Linked DNA regions of Homo sapiens: region 2 is linked to region 1. The links come from fine-mapping of genetic effects on gene expression. Tissue or cell type: whole blood. Region 1 holds a variant in brackets; the other region holds the start of a gene. All regions are shown on one strand. Distances are from middle to middle.

Evidence for each region. PIP is the estimated chance that this variant, and not a neighbour inherited with it, causes the effect. A credible set is the group of variants that fine-mapping cannot tell apart.
Region 2: it holds the start of CLEC20A, and the variant in region 1 is the best candidate, but not a certain one, in a credible set for the expression of CLEC20A in whole blood (TOPMed, PIP 0.53).

Annotation. Positions count from the first base shown.
Region 1 is chr1:178,428,665-178,431,423 of GRCh38, reverse strand. The region is part of intron 5 of RASAL2 (RAS protein activator like 2); the gene reads right to left. Among named protein-coding and RNA genes, the nearest start is that of CLEC20A, 67 kb to the left of the region's middle. The variant T/C (reference allele first, on the strand shown) is at 1,314.
Region 2 is chr1:178,495,531-178,498,289 of GRCh38, reverse strand. It overlaps CLEC20A (C-type lectin domain containing 20A), which reads left to right and starts at 1,326. Exons shown (of 8, transcript NM_001395331.1): 1 at 1,326-1,390. The coding sequence starts at 1,351.

The DNA of each region.
Region 1 (2,759 bases):
TCTTTTGCCTGTTTAATTGGTAAAAAATGGTATTTCATTATGGCTTTAGTGTGCATTTCTTTAATTATGAGATTGAGGACATTTGTACATGTTTATTGGCAATCTCAGTTCCCTTTTCTGTGAATTATAAACTGCTATTCCATGTTCTTAAACCATTTTCCTAATTGTTAAAATTAACTGATATGTAAACACTCTTTGTATATTAAGTAAATTAGTTCTTTTTCTGTCATATTTATAATTATTTCCCCCCAGTTTATGTTTACAAAGGGTTTTTAAATTCCAAGATCATAAGAAATAAGCTACATTTTCTTTTAGTGCTTTTAAGTTTTCATTCAATCCATTTGGATTTTTTGGCAGAGGAGGAGAGATGAAAAGAGTACAGTACGGAGTCAGCTTTGTATTTTTCCAAATTGCAGAAATATTATGATCATAAATTGACTCAATTATTACCGTATAGTATTCTGCTGGTATAAGAGGGGTGTGTGTGTGTGTGTGTGTGTGTGTGTGTGTGTGTGTACTTTTTTGCCTTTGTTTTTCCCTTCTTTCTTATTTTGTCAGCAAGTTAGGATTCGTATCAACACACACAACAAAGAGTATAATGGAAAAAAACACTCAAACTGAAGCCAAAAGCCCTACATATTCACATCAGCTAGAACCACTTATTAGCCATGTGACATGCAGTAAATAATTTATTCTTTCTGAACCTCAGTTATCTCATTTAAGATATGTGTAGATAATGTGGATAATGATTTCTCTTCCTACATCTCACACAGTTGTGAGAATCAAATGCAGTAATCTATAATTTCACATCTATTTCATAAACTGCAGTACAATACAAATGTGAAGGAGTAAGATTGTAGACACACAGCTTTTTTTGCAGTGATATGACATGCATTAGTTCATTTTATGTAAATTATTCATCTGGTTGAGATCAGGAAAGCTATTCTTGAATACACTCTTCACTGGAAGAATACAAAGATGGAGTAAATGTGTAGAAATATTTTTTCTATTAAGATAAAGCATTTTAATGAATTTAAAATGTTATCATGATGCAATTAGATACTTCAATTGGGTTTTAGTTCATAAAACTAAGGGATCCTTAATTGGCCCATGGCTGTAAATCTGGAATAGGAAACTCTAATCGATAGCTAGACTGTATTGATTAATTAATGGCTTGGAGTCCAGTAATTTCTGAGAAGTTGTCATATCCACATAGACCATATTTTAAAAGATTGTAATTCTTTATTATCTGGAAGTCAGTTTTGACTCTCCTCTTCTGTTTCAGGCCAACAAATGTGTATTGAGTTCCTCAA[T/C]AGGACAGTCATTGTGCTAGGGAATGAAGATACAAAGATTGTATCCTGGAGGAGCTTTCAATCTGCTGCAGTAAGCAGACATATGAAAAGATAAATTCAATAAAAAAGTTAGTCCTAGAATAAAGTATGCAGAGTTGGACTCAGGTAGTTGGGGGGTGGGGTAGGCACTTAGTCTAGGATGATATGTGGGAAGAATACCAAAAAGAAGGGAGGGAGCATGTAACTCCTGACTTGGGTACTGTTGCATGAGGATGAACTAGAAGTGAGCTTGACAAAAGACAGGGTATAGGAAAAGGAAATGGCATTTGGGTTAGAGGAGACAGTAAGATCAAAAGCAGAGAAATATGAAACAGTATGACAAGTATAATACTATAAAGAAGACTTTTGGCAGGAGTGACAGGAGGTAATATTGAGAGGGAAAGACTGGGCCATGTTGCCTTTTGTGCGGTAGCTAAAGATTACAGATTTATAGAAGTATTACATACATAGGCAATGAGATATGAAAATTGCAGTTTCAATTGAGACACCTAGATAAAACAGATTCTGTATACCAAAGTCATGTATCAGATCAACTGCAGCATTTACAAAGGAAATGTGTTAGAACCAGTTCCACTACCTTGATCCTCTCAGTTATGTCAAGACTATAAAAAGTGGTCAGAGAATGGAGAATGGGAAAGATTTTGTGAGAAACAATTTTTGAAAGAAGTTGTGAGGCTCATCCTCCTGCTACCTACAAGGGAGAAGGGTAAAAGATACATAGAGGGCAGGGTTTGATTCCATCTGGGAAATCTAGATGATGAGAAATGACCAACTAACTGTTGGTGGCAGAGCAAGAGCATTGATGCTTTTGGATAAGCCTGTAGTCCTAGAGGTTGTTAGGGCAAAAGATTTGTGGAGGTTTCCTGCGGACCATAAGACTGCATGATGAAGAAACCAAAGCATCAAGAACTCCTTTCTAGAAAGGATTCGCAAGTGAGCACTTGGAAGAGAAATGCATCTGTCAGAGTCAATGAAACCATAGGTGAGAGCTCCTCAGGGATGATAAATCTCTGAAAAAGTCCCCAAATCACCCCATGAGAGAAAAGTCAGCTTCAAATTTCTGTTAGGCTCAGTGAGCATTATGGAAGGCTAAGATAGACTTTGTTATCCTCTTTCTCATCTTTTTGTTGCTTCACCTTCCCCAAAACCTGGAGGGTGCCTAAAAACATGGTGAGTAGGCTACAGGGGAAGAGCAGATGAGGAGAGAAGTAAGTAGTCTATCATACTTTCTTCTCCAAAGGCAGGCAGACTGCCTGTAACTGGTTTGGCTGGGGCAAGTGTGTAGTTTTGATTAGAATTTTGTAATATCTTAAACTGGGCCTGGTGCCACAGCTCATGCCTATAATCCCAGCACTTTAGGAGGCTAAGGCAGGAGGATTACTTGAGCCCAGGAGTTCAAGGTTACAG
Region 2 (2,759 bases), 67 kb before region 1:
GAGTCAGAGCCTAGACTGGGCCTGGGGGTCTCTGACCGTGCGGAAGCAGAACTTGTCGGGGCCATCACCTCCCAACCTCATGCTTTTCAGTGTATTCACTGAAAAGCTTTTAGTATTCAACCTAAGCTTGAATACTGTCTCACCTCTGCCTGCGGTGTAGTCCTGAGCATGCTGTTTCACTTCTCTGAGCCACAGTTTCTCCCCTGTGAGCCAGTGAAAATGACAGCCCTCTCCCTCACGTCATGTGGTTGCTGTGAGGAGGGGTAGGGGGTGAGTCTAGCAAAGCCTGCCTGGTCCACAATTTCCAGCTCCTTCTCCCTCCTCACCCGCTTCTTCCCCATCCTTCCTTTCTGCCCCTTGCTCCTCTGACCCTGAGGACCCAAGGGGTCTAGCCTCACCCTGCCCTCTGCTACCCTACTCTCTTTCTCCCCCAGCAGCCAGCCCCAAGGATGGGTTCCTTCCCTCCCCGATCTGCTTATTAATTACCAGATCCATGTTGCCTTCCTCCTAAGTTGCAGGAGGACCTCTGAAGATGCTCTGAAAAATCAACTTGCAAAAGGCAGATTAATTGGAGGAAAGGCATACACATTTATTTAACATGTGTATGTGTCCCCGGGAGCCTTCAGAATGAAGACCCAATGATAGAGGGAGACATTGTTCGTTTTTATGCTTAGGTTCAACAAAGTGTGGGCAGCTGTGTAGAAATATGATTGGACAGAAGGGTCTGATCTAATGTGAATAGACTGAGTGGGGAAACCCAGCCAGGCCTGTGGGTCTGGATTCTTCTTGGCCCCTCTGAGCATGAAGTCCTTCCTTCTGGGCGTGGAGCAGGGCCCTCTCTGGAATGGGGGATTCTCATGACCTACAGTCAAACGATGATCCCTTCAGATCATTTCTTTACAGCCAGTTTCTACACAGCCAGGCAAGGGCAAGTTAGAGTAATATTTTTAGGTTTTATGGCTGGCTTTGGCGAAAAGGGGTTCTAGTTCCTACGGCTGGCCTTGGGGAGAGTGGGGCTGAGAGACAGGAAGGCAGGAGAAGGTAAGAGAAAAACTTGTGCTTCTGGGGCCTTCATTTTGGGACACTGTTTTCTGAACCCCCACACAGGGATCTCTTCCGCATCCTCCAGGCCGCATCTCCAGCACCTCACACCCTGCTGGCAGCGACAGACACTGGGTAAGTATTTGTTTAGTAAAATCCAGCAGTTTGGGTGGCAAAGAGGAAGAGAGGAAACAGCAAGGAATGAAAGGCCAGAAGGTCAGACGCAGCCTCTTCTACAGTCCCCGCCAGCTCCGGGGTCTTGTCCCGTGCCCAGCCAGCACCCAGCCATCGCCCAGCCAGTGCCCAGCCATGCTGCCCCGGGCGCTGCTGCTCTCCTTCTGCGCAGCAGGTGAGGCCCCCCAACCTGGAGGAGGGTGCCTGGCTCCATGCTCCCCCGGGCTAGAGGCTGAGGGAAGGGGGCGCACCCCTGAAGTTCCCAGATTTCCAGGTTGGAGGGAGGCAAGGTGGAAAGAAATGAATGCTTTTCAACCCTCAGAACAGGGTTGGGAAGGGAGCTTCGCCCTCATCGCCCCTAACCAGACAGTACTCAGCCAGCGTCCAGAAGGCAGCAGTCAGAAACAGTGCGGCTCCAGCAGCTTTCTTTCTAGCGGGGCTAAGACATTCCTCAAAGAGACGGCCGCGCAGGTCACTTCAGAAGCATGTGCAATGCAGGGAAGGACATCACCGGGGTGTGGACAGGGACGGGCGTTGTGGGGGTCTGTGGACCAGGGGGCGGCAAGGGTTCTCGGAGAAAGGGAGCCGTGGGTGAGCCTGAGGGGGAGAAGGAGCCACCAAGAAAGCCAGGAAAAGCCCTGGCTTGGAGGGTGGCGGCTGCTGATGCAGGTGGGAGGGGAGGGCGCAGGGCCCCATGGCTGCGACCCACATGGCGGTGGGTGGTCAGGTTTTAGGCCCTCTGGCTGCAGAGTCGGGGCGTGTGGGGACTGCCGAGGGTAGAGGGGTCTTGGGCCCAGGTGTCGGCAGGCAGGCAGAGAAGGGCTAAGTTCAAGGCCATGGAACTGACTAGAGGCTCCCGGGTAGGGCTGGAGAGGCCGGCGGGAGGGGCGCCCTGCATGGGGCTGGGGTGCCAGGGGTGGACACCGTCCTAAAATCAATTATGCGGGCCACAGCCAGTCATTAAAAAAATAAGCAGAATGCTTTTCTCAGTGACAGGAAGCATCCTCCCCTACGGTGGGTGTGAGGAGCTTGTTCTCCTTGGCAAGTGCCTCCTCAGCCCTGGCCCCTGGCTTCCATGCCACGGCCTGTGCCCAGCTCTCCAGTCTCATTCTCCTCTCCTGGGGCATTTAGCTTGAAGGGTTCCTTGTGGCCCAGACCCCCAAGGTCCCAGCACCAAGCCCTTCATTCTTCTCTGCCTCCCTCCATAGGCAGGGCCTGGGCAGACAGAGCAGCCCTGGACCAACCACATTTACTGGGACCAAGAGGGTGGAGTCAAGGAAGGAAGGAACACAGATCTTGGGGCTTGGGTTGGCTTCCTGGGAGACGTTTGATTTGCTCATTAGTTCCTCCCTCTCTTTCCTTCCTCCCTCCCTCCCTTCCTTCCTTCCTTCTTTCCTTCCCTTCTCTTCCTTCCTTTTCAATACATTGAGCCCTTGTGATGTGGCTGGCATCATGCTGGGCCCTGGGAATATAATGAATGAGGCTCGTTCTTTGCTCCTAAGTTGCCTATACCAGGTGATACAGACAGACAAGCAAAAAGGTCT